Homo sapiens: one gene and its partners. The protein of the gene in region 2 purifies or fractionates together with the protein of the main gene of each other region. This does not show direct contact. Each region holds a gene or a part of one and is shown on either strand. Other genes may lie near its edges.

Region 1 (4,923 bases), on a different chromosome or scaffold from region 2:
GCAGAGCATGGTGCTCCAATCCCAGAACCCAGCTGTCCTCAAGCTCAGAGGACCAGGTCCTGGCCTGGCTGCTGCTGCTGGGACTCCTCCCTATGGGCATCCCTGCATGTCCTGTGTGTCCCTGAGGAGGGACATGGGGAACTCAGGGGCCACCTCTCCTCGAACTGCGGGGCCAGAGCAGAGAGCCCTTGCACACCACCAGCCTCTCCTCCCTGTGCCCCAGGAGTTCATCCTTTGCTGCCTGGCCCGGGACCCTGCCCGCCGGCCCTCTGCCCACAGCCTCCTCTTCCACCGCGTGCTCTTCGAGGTGCACTCGCTGAAGCTCCTGGCAGCCCACTGCTTCATCCAGCACCAGTGTGAGCAGCAGGCCGGCCCGGGGGGTGGCTGGGGAGGTGGAGGTTGGGACGTGGAAGGGGCCCTGCAGGACCCACGGCCTGAGCACACCGCCTTGATGCTCTTGTGGCCGCAGACCTCATGCCTGAGAATGTGGTGGAGGAGAAGACCAAGGCCATGGACCTGCACGCGGTCTTGGCGGAGCTTCCCCGGCCCCGCAGGCCCCCGCTGCAGTGGCGGTGAGCAGTCAGCACCCAGAAGCCTCCCCTCCCCACACCTCCCCTCCCCGCACCTCCCCTCCCCTCGCCCCGGCCAGCCCCTCATGTGCCTCCCACTTCCATGCCAGGTACTCGGAAGTCTCCTTCATGGAGCTGGACAAATTCCTGGAGGATGTCAGGTGAGAACTGATGTAAGGTTGGGGGCCAGGCAGCTGTCAGGCCTGAACCCCCAGCCACCCTGTTGTGTCCCCAGGAATGGAATCTACCCACTGATGAACTTTGCAGCCACTCGACCCCTGGGGCTGCCCCGTGTGCTGGCCCCACCCCCGGAGGAGGTCCAAAAGGCCAAGACCCCGACGCCAGAGCCCTTTGACTCTGAGACCAGAAAGGTGAGTCCCCTCTCCTGCTGCTCAGTGCCATCCCTCAGACCTTCTAACAGCCAGATAAGAGGTGCCCCTCCTTCTCTTAGGGCCTGCATCCCCACAGCCCAGCTCTCCTCCTGGCTGCCAGAGACCAGATCCAGGCTGACCCCCTTGTGGGGGTCATGGGGGTTATAGGACAGGCTGGGCACTCTCCTTTTCCGGGAGGCTCCCTGTCCCCTCAGATCCTTCCCCTGCATCCTGCTGCCTGCCCTGAACCTACTCCAAGCATCCTTCCTCCAGAACTCACCCGGGCTCTTCCACCCTGCCAGCAATCTTCCCCCACCCCCGCACCCCTCCCACCCCCCCCACCCCTCCCATCCCCCACCTGGTGCTGATTCCCGGACATCTATGTCCTGGTGTCTCCCCAGACTTTTCCTGCAGCACCCCCTCCTGGCCAGGGGCCTCTCTCGGTGCAGTGCAGCCAGAATTCATGTCCTAACAGGCAAACTGCCTGCTCCTGGCTGCCAGCAGAGATCATGGGAGTCCTCAGCTGACACCCAGGCTCTGGGAGGCCTGATCCCGCAGGCACCGTGCACTTCGGCGCGGTCCTGTCCCGCCCAACCTCCCTTTCCCCACGCCCACAGTTCCCTCTTTGTTCAAGTTGTTCTCTCCGCGGTGAAAGCTCCTATTCAGCCTTCAGTACCCAGCCCCTAATGTCGACTCTTCTCGAAGCTTTCCTTAGCTTGCCAAGCCACTAGCAGTGAGATGGGCTCCTCTTAGAGATTCCCCCCTTTCCAGTCTTTGCTGTCCCTTCCCGGCCCCTTTGGGGCCGCGGCATGTGGTCTTGCTGCTGGGTTTGTGAGTCCCAGCCTTCCCCCGCTGCAGGTCATCCAGATGCAGTGCAACCTGGAGAGAAGCGAGGACAAGGCGCGCTGGCATGTGAGCGGGGCCTGGGAGGGCGGCGCTGCCGTGGGGAAGGCGGGAGCGTGGCGGAGCCCTGAACCCCCAGCCGACCACGCCCCGCCGCCTCCCCAGCTCACTCTGCTTCTGGTGCTGGAAGACCGGCTGCACCGGCAGCTGACCTACGACCTGCTCCCAAGTAGGCTGGGCAGGGGACTTGGGCGGCGGGCGGTGACCCCAGGCGGCGGGTGGGCAGCGGCCTCATGCCTCGCCTTACGCCATTGCCTCAGCGGACAGCGCCCAGGACCTCGCCTCGGAGCTCGTGCACTATGGCTTCCTCCACGAGGTGCGCTGGGCGGTGCGGCGCGGCCTGGCGGAGGGGGCGCACGGGGCAGGCCGCGCCCCTCCGTCCCCCATGCCTCCCTCCTTCCGCAGGACGACCGGATGAAGCTGGCCGCCTTCCTGGAGAGCACCTTCCTCAAGTACCGTGGGACCCAGGCCTGACCCGGAGCCCCAGCCCCAGGGGACCATGCCGGGGTGCTGCCTGGGCAGGCCATGTTGGGGAGACTCCAGCACCGTGGGGCTGCCCTCCTCCATGCGCCTGGGAGCACAAAGGCCCCGGTAGTGAAGGAACCCCCCGTCTCCTGAGAGTGGGGCTGACCCTGCCTTGGGCGCCGAGGGGTTGGGGGGTGGGTGTGGGGGAGCCGTTAGGCCTCCCAGGTCCTTAGGATCAGGGTTGCCCCCAGAACCCCTTCCCATATCCTCCATTCTCCGCCCTGAGTTCCTACCCAGGCTGCCTGGCCGGGGCCACTGCCTCCTCAGCATGCAGGAGGCTGCCCTGTAGGGAACCCCAGCTCTGGGGCTTGGGGGTGAGGGTCAGCCCTGGACAGACCTCTGCCCAGGGAACTGCTCCATGGGGTCTGGGAGAGCAGCCATCCCCTGCTGGCACCATAGACCCACACAAGGAGCCTGCACAGCAAGCCAGCGGTGACACACCTGCAGGTGTCAGGCATGGCACTGGGCACAACAGGGACCTGGCAGGAGAAACAGACCACAGAGAGGTCTGGAGTTGAGGCTGTTGTCAGCAAAGCCCCTGGTCCCACACAGCTCTGCCCTAGAGCCACCTCTTTGACCCTTTACCCACCCTGAGACCAGAACTTGCAGCCCCTCTGCAGATCTCCTCTGGCCACTGCAGCCCCTCCAATGGGCTTTTTCTCTCATGCATTCCCTGGCCTGGAGGCGTCAGGGACCCCACATCCTCCCTGCTCCTCAGACTCACAGCCCCTCCATGTTACCTCCCGCACCTCCTCCCTGGGGCAGCTGCTCCCTGGGCCTCTGAGGATGTCAGCTCCTGGCTCCCTGCCTCTCTCCCACTCCACTCCTGGCTCAGTCTTAGAGATTTCTATGCCCTCATGGATTCTACCCCTGCCTTCCTGGCCTCTTGATTCTTGGCTTGCCTCTCCTCCAATTCCAAACTTAGTGAAATGGCCTTAAGCATTTTAAACTGTATGTATACATTAGCGCATTCATGCCTTTCTAAACGCATTTCAAATGTCAACCAGGAAGGCACACCACTGTATTAGTTTTATACTGCCGCTGTAAAATTTACCACAAACTTAGTGACTTAACACAAATTTATTGCAATTCTGTAGGCTGGAAGTCTGACTATGGGTCTCACTGGACTAGAATCAAGGCTGGCAGGCTGCCTTCCTTCCTGGAGGTTCTAGGGGAGACTCTGTCTCCTGCTCCTTCAGGCTGCTGGCAGAATCCACATCCTTTCGGTGGCAGGGCCAAGGTCCCCACTTTCTTGCTGACTGTAAACTAAGGCCACTTCCAGCTTGTAGAGGCTGCCTACATTCCTTGGCTCTTGGCCCCCTCCTCCATCTTCAGAGCTAGCAGGTTCAGTCTGTGTCACGAACCATTTCTCTGGTTCCCTGCAGACAGGAAAGGTTGTCCCTAAGGACTCATGAGATTAGGTTGGGCCCAGCCAGATAATACATGATAATCTCCCTCCTCAAGGTTTTTAATATTAAACACATCTGCAGGACACATTTTGCCATGTAAACTAACATTCACTGGTTCCAGGGATTAAGGAATGAACCTCTTTTGTTGGGGAAGGGTGGCATTCTGCTGACCACAGCACTCCAACCAAAAGCCAAAAACCAAAGCAAGACTTACTAACGCATATCAAATAAATTAAAGGTACAAAATCGTGAATCTCAGTTATCTTAAATATTCCAATACTATTTACAAAATTATTCAAATTCTCACGCCTTCCAACTCAAAATTAGCAATCTAAAGTAATTTCCATATCCTAGATGGAAACCCTCATGCTAAACTGTCTGATTATGCATGGTTCTAAATGGTTTCAGTGGCAAATACATAACATTGTACTACTGATTAAACTGAACTTAAAAGCATCAATACCACCATTGCTGCACTTAATCATGTCTCTGTTGAATTTTTCCTTTTAAATTTTATCTTTTCAGAATTATATATGTATTGTTTTTAAAGTAGAATAGTTTTTTTTTTGAGGCCAATAATAAATAATAAATGCAGGCTCCTACTCTGATCCTCTCCAAATTCAACTCTCTTAACTGTTTCTTCAGGCATTTGAAATCCATGTTTTTCAAAACCATGAGCATGCTTTTAGTCCTGTTTATTCGTTTTTCTACATTAGATGTCCCTGGCTGGCATCCTCTGGGAGGAGGGCGGTCACCTGCCTCAGTCTCCTGGCGGCATCATTCCAGTGTTACGGGCATCATAGCTGCATGGGTGTTATTACAGCTTCATTACCACACGTCTCAGGAGAGAACACGGTGTTCTAGGATGGCATTTCTTGCACAACTTTTTGTTTTCCCTGGAGTTAATAATTGCCTTTTTTTTGGTTTGCCTAGTTTTCTATATGTGTTTGTCATTGATTCATCTTTAGACTTTCCTGAAGAAGCATGAGCATCCTGTCACAGCTTAGGACTCATCACATAACTGACTGCTCAGTTTCTTCTTTTCCTGGAGCCCCCACCATACAAGCCCCCTGCCCAGGCTACTTGTTCTTGGACTTACAGCCCAGTGGTCAGCATGGGTTAACTCTTCACCAGTGTCCTGTACTG
Region 2 (7,032 bases):
TGGGAGGAGTCCCACAAAGGAAAATTCTGCATCTCCATCTCAGGTCCCCTAATTTTCACTGGATTCTGTGATCTGGGGGACTAAGGGTGCCAAGCTCTTCTGAGCCCTGAGATGGTAGTCTTGAGCTTGTCCAAGAACTTATGAGTCAGCTTTGGATACAAATCATGCCTGCTGGTAATTCCCACACCACCTTTTTGACTTTGTTTCCCTGTTTCTCCTCTATTTCTTGGAGTGGAGAGCAGTGTCCCCACCTACTCACAGCCTGTGAGCCATTTACTTGATGGCAACACACGTGAGACAGGCTGGGGAAAAGACAAAGGAAGAGAAGAAGAGGAGCTATTGGTTTAGTTACAAACCTTGAGCTAGTGGAATATTAGATTGATGGGGGTATTCTGTGCTGTAGATAGTCACATTTGTTATTAGAGAAATCTGTCATAGAATCTGGCAATACTGACTTCACTGGGGGCTCAGTTCCACTAAGCCGGTAATGTAATTTTCTGAATAGGCCAGGCAGAGAGCTAAGAATCACTGTGAATTCAGGTCAACCTGGGGACTTTGAGACTTCATGGAGCGTGGACTGGGAATTGGCTCTTGAAAGGCCTTCCTTTAAACAGCTCCTCCACCTTCCGGTAAACCCTTTCACCTGGTGTCAGTCAGCCTGGAGTTTCCGCCCCCCCCCCAACAACTCCCCCCACCCCAACCCACCCAGTAGTTTCTGAACCAACAAGCAGATACAAAAGGAAGAGGGACTTCTGCGACCTGTTCTGGGGCCTCTCCATGCACCACGCAGTTTCTTTAGCAGTGCATTATCAGGTGATAGTAGGTTCCTCCCTGCCACCTCCAAAATGCCTCAAGCCAAATTAAGTCCACTCCAGCTTGCCTGTCTGCTTACATTTACTGCTGAGTGTGGAGGCTGAGTGTGGGACCGGGTCAGGCTTTGCTGCCTGGCATTTGCCTCTGAGCAGACTGCTTGCCTGACACTGGGGAGAGTAGGCTTTTCCTTGGGAAGTATGATGAGCTTGACTTGGACCCCCAGCAGGCTTCCAAATGCCTGTCCCCAGGGAAGCCTACCACTGAGCAAGCAGAAGTGTGATGCCTCAGTAACCTGGCTGTTACATAAGATGTGCTAGTTATGAGTCAGGGCCCTCAGGCTGGCCTAGGCCCAGCCTAGTCTGGGAGTGAGGCTAAACGGCAGCGCTGAAGGAGGGGTGTCTTGGGAGTGGGGTAAGCCAGGAAGGAGCTGCTGGAGTCGCTTCCTTTCCTCTCACTTCTCACCCCCTTCTTCCTTAGGGATAGCTCTAGCCAATCACCAGCCTAGATAGCACGGAGCGGGAATCCTGGCCAGACCCCTAAGCTGTGAACAGCTGCTCTCCATCTCCCCTGAAGAGAAGATTAGAAGAAGTGGGTTGAATACTCAAGCCTATTCTGTGAGTAAAGTCTTCCTTCGAGGAAGGATGGGGAAGGTCCCTGTGTGCTCTGTCCATAGGCAGGGGCCCGATTTCTGGCTGGACCTATTTGAGGAAAGTGGCTCCCAGGAGAGGAAGGCCAATGGTGAGCCTGGATCATCAGTGATCCAGCCTGCTTCCAGCTCTTGTTTTCCCTCGGGCTAGTGTCTGCACAATGGGAAGCTTCCCATTCAGTCTTCTGTGCTGGCTGGGATCTTAATGCCTCTTATACAGTTTCCAGAAGGGCCACAGCTACTTTGGGGCAGGAATTTTCAGCTAGAAGGTACAAGTGAACTTGCCTTGCCTACTGATGAAATTCCCTCCTGCCTGGAATAGAATCGAGAAAAGCTTGCTTTCTGCTCTCACAGATCGCATCTTAGCCCCACTCCAACTCTAGTTAAGCTGGATTTCAGCATGGTAGACAGTGGCCTCCAAAAGACATTTTCCCTGACCTGACTCTTCATCAAACCTAGGTTGCCCTGAAACTGGGATCTAGCCTTCTGGCCTTCATGGGGCTCCTCCTAGCCCATGGGGTTCTGTGGAGGGCCTTTTCTGCCAAAGCTGTGGTGCTACAGCAATGCCCTAACCCTTGTCCCATTATTGCAGACTTTGGGACAGCACAGTATGTTCTGGGCCATTATTGTTCTCTTTATTTAAAAGGAAATTTCATCTTTCTGACCCCTGTGGTCATGGACTCCTCTCCCCTGAGTTCACTGAGCACACAAAATACCCCATCAAATGAACCCATGTTTTAGTCTCAACTTAGCACATTGGTTTCTCCAGGGTTCAAGAGGCTATTGCACGATACCAACCAATTTGTTATATAAGCCCAGCCAGCCATGGCAGATTATGGCTTTACAGTTATCTCTAGGGATGGCTTACATAAGAAGAAGAGAAAGTTCAGGTAGGAGCAGAATCACGATGAGCAAACAGCGCAACAGCCACCACCAGGTGCAGACATGGCCAAACTCATTCCTCCCAACCAACCCACCCACCAGGTGGGGGCAAGAACTCTGCAGGGTTCCATCACCCGGGATGCCTAGAGGTCTTGGCAGTCTTGGCCAGATACATCCATCTCCATTTTACCCAGACTCCCTGGCCTTCAGTACCTGATCTGGAAAGGAGCCAACCCTCTACCTGGAATGGAGAGCTTGTTGGATTATCTGCAAGTGCAAATATAAGCAGGAGTGTTAACCTTCTCTTCAGGCAGGGAAGAAAACTAAGGTCACCCTGGAAAGCATTATTTGCTGAGGTGTGGACTCAGTAAATAATAGTCCACTCCTGGCAAAAACTGAGGAGTAGATGAAATTCAAGCTCTGTGCTTCCCACCTTTCTTTAAGAGCATGAACTTTCCAAACAGATCTTTTGAACTCTCATGCTGTCCAGGCCCCGTGCTGTAACAGCCCAAGCTAGGCCTTCCATGGACTCCAGCCCCATCTCTCTACCTCTCTCCTCCAAAGTTGGCTTTGCCACATTCCAGTCCCATAGGACCCTATTCCCAGTGGGCTGTCACCATGACCAGAGGTCTGATAAACAAATCCATACAAAGTAGTTAATGGCAAGTAATGGTGTCACATGTTACTCTTTAAAAAGGTATGCTAGACCTTGGCCATTCATGAGAGATACACACTAAAACTTTTGCCAGTCTCCAACTCATGGATGCAATCTCCAAAGCATGTCATTTCCCCCATAAAAAGTCCATTCCCAGGCAGCACCATCACTTTGCCAAACTTTGTAGCTTTCTCTTCGTTGTAATCACTAGCACCAGCAGCTGGCTTAGAGAGGGAGCATTCTCCTCAAGGAATGCCCTGAGACATTTGCTCATTTTATGACAGGTTCCTACGTATGTGTTGACTACGAGCAGTAGACCACAAAATTGTGTTGAAAAGTAGGTGCTGGGCAATGCCACTCCTAGGTATATACCCCAAAGAATTAAAAGCAGGGACTTGAACAGATACTTGTACACCAGTGTTCATAGCAGCATTCTTCATAATAGCCAAAAGAGGGCAACAACCTAAGTGTCCACTGACAGATGAATGGATAAGCAAAAGAGGTATATCCATACAATGGAATTTTATTCAGCCATAAAAAGAATGAAGTACTGATATGTGCTACAACATGGATGAACTTTAAAACATGTTGAGTGAAAGAAATCAGACACAAAATATTGTATGATTCAATTTATATGAAATATCTAAATAGGCAAATCCATAGAGACAGAAAGTAGAATAGAGGTTACCAGGGGGTAGTGGGAGGGGAAAATAGGGAAACGGTGAGTTATTCTTTAATGGGTACAGAGTTTTTGTTTGGGATGATGACAAAATTTTGGGAATGATAATGGTTGCACAACATTGTTAATATACCTAATGCTACTGAATCGTACACTTAGAAATGGTTAAAATGGCAAATTTTATATCTATTTTACCACTATATATATATATGTACTATGTACAATATATGCATATAATACATCTCTCTCTTTCTCTTTCACACACACACACACACACACACACACACACTAGTAGATGTGGGGTAGGGCACCAGGCTCACTCATTGGTGAAAGGACCGGCCCCCACCTACTAGTCTCCTTGCACATGTGATTCACATCTGTGCCTCAGCAAAAACACAGTTTCTTACCAGTCTGAGTTCTCATGAAGTATCCAAACCATGAATGTTAAGTTTGCAAATGCATTTGTGCTTTTAATGGAGAAGGTCCCTTAATCCAAGAATGCCTATTCTTTGTCAGACCACTAGGCACTCAGGAAATAGTTATTTTAAATTACTTTGGGCTATGAAAGGACTTTTGAAGCTTGATACCAAAAGCAAAAATCACAAAGGCAAAGAATGACAGGCTTAACCACACAGAAACCCAAAACCGCTCTACAGCGAGTAACTCCATCCTCAAAATCAAATGGTAAATTAGTTGACAATGCGTTGCAATCTCTAATACAGGGTTTCTCACAGTGTGGTCTACATACCAGCGGTGCTCTGGGAGAGGAATTTTAGATGGTACATGGACAGAGAACTGAATCTTAAATAGTATGAACTTAGGCACTGCAGCAGGCAGCCACTCAAATCATGCCGTGTGAGTGGCCACCACCTCAGAAGCCAGGTCCAGGAATATACATTATGAAATTACTTGTTCTGAGACTCACTTAGAGAAGCACAAATAATTTTTTGCACAAATTTTTCTTGAAAACCTGATCTCTGAATCTATATCCTTCCCCTTTGTTACTATATTAATAGGGGATATTAAATGAATTAGCACACATAAAGCAATTAGAAATGTTTGCTATTTTTATCATTTTCTGAGCATTTATATATGGGAACCAGTTGGGGCCAGGTCAGAAGCTTAAAGGTAGAATCCTAGGGTTTTTAGAGCTGGAAGGGAAATCGGATTCAGAGTATTTCAGACCACACTAGCCAGGTACGCTCTGGGGTCAAAGGTAGAATAGAGCTGATTAAGAGGTTTTGGGTAAAATCTTAGAAAAAAATTTGAGGTTACAGCAACAGCAATCACAACGAATACTGTCAAAGCTCCTGTTACAGGTTGTTATACCTTACAGGTCAGAAAAATTAAGGAAGGCTCTTCAAATGTCAACTTGGGAAGCTTTTTCATATGCTACATTTAAATTGGAAACTTCTGCTGTTTGCCCAGAATATTCTATCTCCCTCCTAAGTTTTCCAGTATTAGAAGCATATTCAAATGACAAGGGGGAAGTCCCCTAACAACAGGGTGACCAACCATCCCAGTTTCCCTAGGACTGTTCCAGTTTGAGCACAGGCAGTCCTATGTCACAGGACTGGGATGGTTGGTTTCCCTACCTAATAAGGACATTTTGACCATTTGGAAAGGTTCTGAGCTCACATTTACCTCTGCTTCATAGACAATTCTTAAGTGTTACAAGAATTTCTTTAGCATTAGTTTAGTTACTGAGTGTTCTTAACAATTCTTTCTTCATAGACAATTCAGGCTCTGCTCTTCATTGTGAGGCATTGGGCAAGATACTTAATTTTTTCCAAGCCTCAATTTCCTTCTTTATAAAATGAAAATGGATGATAATAGTACCCATTTGGTCGGGCGCAGTGGCTCATGCCTGTAATCCCAGCACCTTGGGAGGCCGAGGCTGGTGGATCATTTGAGATCAGGAGATCGAGACCAGCCTGACTAATATGGTGAAACCCCATCTCTACGAAAAATACAAAAATTAGCCGAGTGTGGTGGCGTGCGCCTGTAGTCCCAGCTACTGAGGAGGCTGAGACAGGGGAATTGCTTGAACCCAGGAGGTGGAGACTGCAGTGAGCTGAGATCGTGCCACTGCACTCCAGCCTGGGCGACAGAACAAGACTCCGTCTCAAAATAAATAAATAAATAAACAAATAAATAAATAAATCCATTCCAAAGAGTTGATGTAAATATTAAATTAGATTATGCAGGTACATTGTGAATGTTCAAGAAGTGTTAGTTATTAATCTGTTATGGTTATTAGTTACATAATACAAGATTGAAAGGATGGTGTTTAAAATACACTTCTTCCCCAACCCAATTGTTTACAGGTACCATTTACATACCAACAGGCTGCATGCCCATTCTCACTGATTCGTATGTATATACACAGCACTATCAGGACTTCCATCAGGCTATGAGAGTTACTGCATGTGGTTAAAACGGAAGGAAAACAACTTTTAAACATTAATAAGGATTTTCTAGCACAGTATAAAGTTGTAAAATCTTTACAAGGGACCACGTCAATATTTAAGTAGTCATCCAACTGAAGAAACCTTTATTGAATATTGGCTGTATAACTAAAAGCCAAGGGAAAACCAAGCAAGTAAAACACAGCCCTACCCTCAAATTGCTTATACTCTTGTGTTCCAAGGAAACCAAGAACGAAGCTGGGAGCCAGGGACAGGTCAAAGCAGACAAACCAGATGTAAATCAAGAATGTGCCCTGCTCTTCTTCCTAAAAATATAGGAGCCCTCTTGGCAAAGGAATGGACTGCAGGAGGAGGGGTGGGAGACTAGCTTCTCCAGCAGGAGAGGCCTTGAAAGTTGACAAAGGAAAAAAGCACCCAACAGGAACCTGAAATGTCAAATCATTAAATTGAATAGAAGTAAAAACGATGGCTGAAGTATGATGATAGAAACCCAGGGAATTTAATGAAGTAACAAGGGATATGTTCACTTAGGAGAAGGCTGTCTACCCCAGATATTGGAGAAGCCCCATGACCAGCAATAATGGTCTTCTAGTTTGCTAATGAGCATGTCATACTGGGCAAAACCTAAACCGAATTCAGAATCCCCAGTCTCTAAGGTCCCAATTGTCAAGGAAAACAAGAGGGGATCAGTGGCTCATGCCTGTGATCCTGGCACTTTGGGAGGCTGAGGTGGGCAGGTCGCTTAAGCCCAGGAGTTTGAGACCAGCCTGCACAACATGGCAAGATCCCGTCCCTATAAAAAAAAAATACAAAAATTAGCTGGGCATGGTGGTGTGTGCCTGTAGTCCCAGCTACTTGGGAGGCTGAAGTGGGAGGATCGATGGAGCCCAGGAGTTTGAGGCTGCAGTGAGCTGTGATCATGCAACTG
Region 3 (7,032 bases), on a different chromosome or scaffold from region 2:
CTGAATTCCAGCCTGGACAACAAGAGCAAAACTCTGTCTTAAAAAAAAAAAAAAAAAAATCGCCTATGGGCCTGGGACCTGGGTCTGGGGTCTCAGAGGAAGCGAGGGTTTGAGGAGAGGAAGGGAAGTGAGCTTGGAGAAGGGACACTGGGAAGAGGAGCAACAGGGCTTGGAAGAGGGCTGGGAGTCTGGGGTGACAGGGTCTGGCTGCAGTCTGGGAAGTGGCCACCAGAGGGCGACTCAGGCCTGGCTCAACAGCCCCCAGGGCCGGGCTCCAGGCTGGCTCCACGACGTTGGGCTCCTGGTCCCAGAACCTGGCTCTCCCTCAAGCCCCACTCTCAGGCCCCACCTGCGCAGGCCCTTGTGCTGACCTCATCCTCCAAGGCTCCCTCTCCCACCCCTCAGGCCCCAGGCTCTTGCCCTGAGGCTCCCGACCCACCCTTGCACCCCTGCACTCTGGCGCTGTGGCGGGATCCCCAGTCCTGCCCTCCAGCCCCCAGCTGGGCCCCCCTTGGAGCAGGGGCCTCAAGGCGCTGCAGCCCACATCCCTGGACTCCCTTGTAAGCCCTCCCTCCTGGCTGTCAGCTCAGACTTGCTTTCCTGCAGGGGGATCAGCACTCAATTCAAGGTGACCCCTGGATAAGGTCCTGCAGCCAGGAAGGGAGCACAAGGGAGCTGGGAATTTTCCATTTCTCATCCCAGCTCTGGGTGCAGAAGGCGCTGACAGGTGGAGCAACTAAGGAGGTGACTAGGCCTGAGCGAGCAGGATGGGGTGGGTGGGGGAAGGGCATCTGGGACTCTTGGGGTGGTGGGAGAGGAGAAGTTGAAGGGTGGAGGTGGGTCTGCCAGCAGGAGGGTCAAAGTAATTTTCGAGCTATTTCAATCAGCAACACCTGGGTGGAGATGGAGCCACCACAGAAAGCCCAATACTGCCACCACCCCATTAAACACTCACAGAGACCAAAGGGGTTGGATACACAGGGATAGGAACATGGGCCCTGCTGGGCAGAGACTCAGGGGTAAAGATGTCAAGTAAGGTGTTCATTCTCACCAGAGATAAAGGAATAATACAGCAATAAACGTTTGTTAGCCGACAGGTGACTGTCTTCTGTTTGTCTAGCGCCTGGGAGTTTTTGCTCTTGTTGCCCAGGCTGGAGTGCAATGGCGGGATTTTCCCTCATTGGAACCTCCACCTCTGGGTTCAAGTGATTCTCCTGCCTCAGCCTCCAGAGTAGCTGAGATTACAGGCATGAGCCACCATGCCCAGCTAATTTTTGTATTTTTGCCGGGGAGCCTCCGGCAAAATGGGGTTTCACCATGTTGGCCAGGCTGGTCTTGAACTCCTGACCTCATGATCCACCCACCTCAGCCTCCCATCTCAGTCCTGGGATTACAGGTGTGAGTCACTGTGCCAGGCCTCTATTGGAACATTCTAACACACACTTCAAGGGACCAGGGCTCTGGCAATGCAGGCCCTTCCCTTTAGGACCCCAAAGCGAGGGGTTGTGGGCACTGTGCTAGAATTCTTTGACAGGGTCCGGGGGAGGAAAGTAGGGGCTGCTGAGACAGGATCGACCTCCACCACAAGCCCAAAAGCAAGTTTGTATGGATTAGAAAATGCCCCCTTCTTCGAGATCCTTAATGCCATCTTCTGGAAAACTGTCGTGACTTCAAGCATTGACTGTGATTTCAAATATGAGCGGCACCCCCTGGAGTTAGTTGTGCAGTGTGTGACATGCACAGTGGGAGACTTAGCCCTGCAGGACTCTTGGTCCTGGGGCGGGGACAGCCCTAGAAGCTGGTCTTCCTCTTTGAGGGTCAAATAAAACGGCCTCAACATGAAGATGAGATAAAAAGCAGGACACCTGGGAGAAATGGGGAGCCTGGGATCTTGGGGACAGGGGCCAGCCCTGCACACTCTCCAGTGGGTTCAGGGGATCCCCCAGGGCCTAGGTCTGGGGCCAAGAAAGTGTCATCCAGCTGCCCTGTCTCTATGCTGTCCCGGATCTGTGGTGTCTTTGGGGCGGGGCTGGGGAGGTCGGGGAGGGGGAAGGGGGGCTGGCTCCCTGCCCTGCTTGGGAGAGCTGTACCTGACTGTCCTAGAGAGAAAGGATATTGTAGACCATTGCCGCCACCTCTTTGCCTGGGACACAGGCATCCCAGTAGGACAGTGGAGAAGGTGTGGCTTTGGAGTTGGACCCAGGCTCCAGCTGCAGTCCAGCCACTTAAACTAGCTGGGTGGCCCTTGGGCAAGTTTCTAAAACCCTCCTGGCCGGGTGAGGTGGCTCATGCTTGTAATCCCAGCACTTTGGGAGGTCGAGGTGGGTGGATCACCTGAGGTCAGGAGTTTGAGATCAGCCTGGCCAACATGGTGAAACCCCGTTTCTACTAAAAATACAAAAATTAGCCGGGCATGGTGGCATGCACCTGTAGTCCCAGCTACTGGGGAGGCTGAGCCAGGAGAATCGCTTAAACCTGGGAGGCAGAGGTTGCAGTGAGCCAAGATCGTGCCACTGCATTCCAGCTTGGGAAACAGAGCAAGACTCCATCTAAAAAAGAAAAAAACAAAAACAAAACAAAAAAAAACCTCCTTCTCTGAGTCTCAGATACTTCATCTGGCAAGTGGGAGAATGGAACTGCTTTTTAGGATTAGAAGGGAGAAGGCAGTACCGGACCCAAGGGAGGCACTGGATAAATAAATGTACCTTTTCTTTCCCAAGTCCCTGGGATCCATTCTGTATAATGCCTGGATCCCCCAGGCCGGTCACTGCCCCCACCCCCATTCCTTCCATCCACTTCTTCACACCTTAATTACCTCCTGCCTGCCGGGAGGGGACAAGGATTTCCAGCCCTGGGGCACGTGAGCATTCTAGATTCACCTGCACCCTCTGTTCGCCCATCCCCAGATTCAGGGACTGGTCAGGCGTCCCCAACTCCCTCCCTGTGATCCAGGCACTGAACATCTCAGCCCACCTTCCCTCTTAAGAGAGAGGTCCCAGGCCACTGGCATCCTGTCCTGCCAGCCCTGTGCACACCAGACAGGAGAGGTGGGGCCTACATGTCCCATTCCTAGGGGGCAGGGGGTGGCCCAACCCAAACCCGCTGGCCTGGCAGGGTGGGGCTTGAGGGGCTGGGCTGGGACAGATCCCCAAGAGCCTTGGAGCACAGCAGGGTGAAGTGGAGGCTGGGAACCGGACCGGTCAGATTGGGGTGTGCAGGGAGGGGGTGGGATGGAGGGAGGCAGGGAGGGAGGGTACAGGGGAAAGACGGAGGCCTCAGGAGGTTGAATCCTCTAAGACAGAGACAGCAGGAGGCTGGGCTGTGAACTCAACAGGGGTGGGGGAGGGACGGGGAGTCCTCTTGCCGGGGAACCTCCCAAGTGGGAGAGGGAGAGGGCGGGAAACGCTGAGAATAGCAGTGATGGCGGCAGGTGACTCTCCCAGCCCTGGCCGACCTCACACCTCGCACATTCCTGAGAGTGGGAATGGGGCGTGCAGAAGCCACCCAGTCCTGCCCAGCCCCGCCCAGCCCCACCCAGCACTGGCACTCTTGCCCTCCGTCCCACCAGCTCCTGGCCACCTCCTTTGCCAGGTCCCTATCCTCCCTGAGGCCGCAGGACCCTATCAGTGGTGGGCTTGAGTCCCTGATCCCAGCGAGTGGCCCCTGATCTGGGGAGGACAGGAAGGAGCGACTCCCATCTGGAATTGGTCCCTCAGGCACCCACTCACCCACTCTCGAAGCCCCACCCCCAATTTCCTTCCAAGCAGGAAGTCCCTCCCCTTGAAAACCTCCCACGGGAAGTCCCACTTCTCCCTCCAAAAGAAAAGCGGTGACTCCCCAGCCCTTCTGCCCGGTTCCTATCAGTCCCCGGGGAGAAGCAGGCAGCCTGGCTATCTCTGACTCACGATTCTGGGCCTCCCTTTTCAGCTTGCTGGCTTTCTTAGGAATGGTGACACCTGGCCCTGAAAACCCACCCAACAGAGCACTGTCCCCTAAAGGGAGAACCCCAGAAAGTCGCTCTCTGCAGTGCTGCCCCTGCCCCTTTGCCGTTCCTAGCTCTGATTCTGTTCCTAGCTGGCCCATCTTAGGGACTTGCTTTCTCGGTTCTAGAAATCTTAGGATCCTAAAGTAGACCCTGTGGGCTATCAGGATGTCACGCTCCACAGGTGCTGTTAGGGAGTCCCAGTCCTTTGTTAGGAGAGAAAGAGGGAGATGGAACTGGGAGGAAACTGATTTCCATTCTTTTTCAGTTTTTTTTGTTGTTTTTTTTTTGAGGCGGAGTCTCGCTCTGTCACCCACGCTGGAGTGCAGTGGTGCGATCTCGGCTCACTGCACCCTCTGCCTCCTGGGTTCAAGTGATTCTCCTGCCTCAGCCTCCTGAGTAGCTGGGATTACAGGCACGTACCACCACGCCTGGCTAATTTTTGTATTTTTAGTACAGACAGGGTTTCACCGTGTTGGCAAGGCTGGCCTCGAACTCCTGACCTCAGGTGATCTGCCCGCTTCAGCCTCCTAAAGTGCTGGGATTACAGGCATGAGCCACCATGCCCAGCCTACTTCCTTTATGTATATATATATATATTTTTTTTTTCTTTCTTTCTTTTTCTTTTTAGAGATGAGGTCTCGCTACATTGCCAGGGCTTGGTCTTGAACTCCTGGCCTCAAGCAATTTTCCTGCCTGGGCCTCCCAAAGCACTATGAGTACAGGCGGGAGCCACTGTGCCCCGGCCTGATTTGCTATTCTGTCTAGAGCATGCATTTGCCAGTGGGTTCCTGGGTTGGCCAGATGATCTCTAAATCTGCAAGAGCTCTGGAATCTGACAACAATGACTCCCTTCAGACTCTAAAAAAGTCTGTGACCTGACAGTTCTGAGCCAGGGAGTCCCACCCAGCCCTCTCCACAGAGAGGGAGTGGGTCCGAAATCAACTGTGTGCAGTGGCTATGCCCAGGCCAGGTTTCTCTAAGAGGTCCTCTCCAAGTTCAACCTGGGGGAAGGATGCCTACCAGGCACTTTCTTACAGCTACCCCGGGTGCTGGGCGGGGAACCTGAACCCCACGCCCCACCACCCCACGAAGCCCACCTACCTATCATCGTCGCTGTCTAGGTGACCACTGATGGCCAACATGGAGTGGGCCAGGCTGAACTTCTGAGCTGCTACTGCTCCGAAGGGGTCTGGAGATTTGTGAACCAGGCTGGCATCGTGGGTGAAGTAGAGGGCTGGGGAGCTGGGGCGAGAGTCAAGTGGGGGCACCTGGAGGCGGAGAGGTAGGAACCATCACATGAAAAGAGAAAAGAAAGGAACCAGCTGCCTTAAAACTTGCCTATTAGCCTTCCTCCCTCTCCACCTCCCCACTCTCTTTCGAGGACCCAGGAGTCCTGTCCCCGCAGTCCTTCCCTCCTCCAGCTCTGGAGAAGGCATTAGGCAGGTACTAGAAGCAAGAAGTGGGTCAACCTAAGGAATGGGAGGAGTGGTGTATAGGACATTAGAGAGAGTCTCCCAAGTGGGAGGAGGGGGTGACTGACGGAGGAACCCAGAATAGACTCCAATGCCCCAGCTCCCACTGGGCCGGGACCCCTAATCAGAGGCTACGCAGCGTGTCTGCCTTCTTTTATGTTTTATTTTTATTTTTTTGAGACAGTCTCACTCTGTCACCCAGGCTGGAGTGAAGTGGCACAATCATGGCTCACTGCAGCCTTGAATTCCTGAGCTTAAGCGATCCTCCAGCCTCAGCCACCCGAGTAGCTGGGACTACAGGCATGCACCATCATAACTGGCTAATTTTTTATTTTTGGTTAACACAGGGTCTCAAGATGTTGTCCCGGCTGGTCTCAAACTCCTGGGCTCAAGTGATCCTCCTGCCTCAGCCTCCCAAAGTGCTGGAAGAATGAGCCACCACTCCCAGCCTGTGCCTTTACTGGAGTCTCGCTCTGTCGCCCATGCTGGAGTGCAGTGACGTGATCTTGGCTCACTGTAACCTATGCCTTCCAGGTTAAACTGATTCTCCTGCCTCAGCCTCCTGAGTAGCCGGGACTACCGGCACCTGCCATCACACCTGGCTAATTTTTTTATTTTTAGTAGAGACGACAGGGTTTCACCATGTTGGCCAGGCTGGTCTTGAACTCCTGACCTCAAGTGATCTGCCCGCCTCGGCCTCCCAAAATGCTGGGATTACAGGCGTGAACCACTGCACCCAGGCTGCCTTCTTAAAATGACTCCAATGTCACCTCTTAGAGAGGCATTTCCCCATCATTCACTGGTTTACTGAACTATTTCATTTTTTTATAGCACCTAACATTATCTGAAATTAAAGTATTTATTGTGTCTCTCCCCTGCTAGAAGGTCAGTTTGCTCAGTAGCTATTTGTAGAATGAATGGATCCTCAGAAACTGCTCCTCCATCCCCTCACCCACCCCCCACTCTCGCTTCCCCTCTCAAACTTCTCGGACTCAGGTGGAATTCTGCTCCTGCGCTCTGCCCTAGGGTTGGGGGGGGAGCTGGTTGTGGAGCTGGGGGGAGGCGGAGCCTGGGCGTGGACCTGCATAGCCCAACAGGCTCTGGGGGCAGCAGCAAAAAGGGCGGGGGCGACAGGAACATGACAAGACGCCTCTGTGAGGCCCCGGGAGGCCCCAGCTTCTCAGAAAAGCCAAGAACAGAGAGTCCAGGGTGGTTAAGGGACAGAGCAGAGGAAGGGGGCCCAGGTGGTGTCCCCTGGCCCTTCTCCACCACTCCCCTCTGTTAAGAGGGAGAAGAGGCATGAGGGGACGTGGAAGGGAGACAGACTTTTGGGCAAGGAAATAGCAAAACAGATGCGTGCAAACAGAAGACCGTCAGGAGGTGGGGGAAGGCTGGGGAGTAGGGGGCACTGAGAGAGAGAGGCAGGGTCTGTGGCCCCAAGAGAAGCTCAGGCCAGGCTTAAGGACAGAGAGCAGGGAAGCTGGAGGCCAAGGGGGTTTGCTTTGGAAGAGTCTGGGGACAGGACAGGAAGAGAAACAGCATCTTCTCCCCTGGGGTGGGTGCTGAATGCAAGAG

What was found. Proteins that work in one complex are often made in the same cells at the same time.
Region 1: the proteins of TSC22D3 (region 2) and NRBP2 purify together in Homo sapiens (affinity purification with mass spectrometry; 2 studies listed by BioGRID and IntAct, with this or other methods). This does not show direct contact.
Region 3: the proteins of TSC22D3 (region 2) and TSC22D4 purify together in Homo sapiens (affinity purification with mass spectrometry; 4 studies listed by BioGRID and IntAct, with this or other methods). This does not show direct contact.

The regions. Positions count from the first base shown.
Region 1 is NC_000008.11:143,833,056-143,837,978, reverse strand, and holds the end of NRBP2 (nuclear receptor-binding protein 2), read left to right. Parts: intron 1-162; exon of another isoform or gene 163-223; coding exon 224-356; intron 357-469; coding exon 470-572; intron 573-679; coding exon 680-730; intron 731-804; coding exon 805-940; intron 941-1,798; coding exon 1,799-1,852; coding exon of another isoform or gene 1,853-1,948; coding exon 1,949-2,012; coding exon of another isoform or gene 2,013-2,103; coding exon 2,104-2,159; coding exon of another isoform or gene 2,160-2,248; coding exon 2,249-2,317; coding exon of another isoform or gene 2,318-2,541; 3' UTR 2,542-4,396; downstream 4,397-4,923. UniProt on the Homo sapiens protein: May regulate apoptosis of neural progenitor cells during their differentiation.
Region 2 is NC_000023.11:107,765,783-107,772,814, forward strand, and holds part of TSC22D3 (TSC22 domain family protein 3), read right to left. Parts: intron 1-7,032. UniProt on the Homo sapiens protein: Protects T-cells from IL2 deprivation-induced apoptosis through the inhibition of FOXO3A transcriptional activity that leads to the down-regulation of the pro-apoptotic factor BCL2L11.
Region 3 is NC_000007.14:100,469,188-100,476,219, forward strand, and holds part of TSC22D4 (TSC22 domain family protein 4), read right to left. Parts: intron 5,254-7,032; coding exon 5,087-5,253; intron 1-5,086. Other genes in the region: TSC22D4-C7ORF61 (uncharacterized protein LOC122198330), read right to left, coding at 5,087-5,253.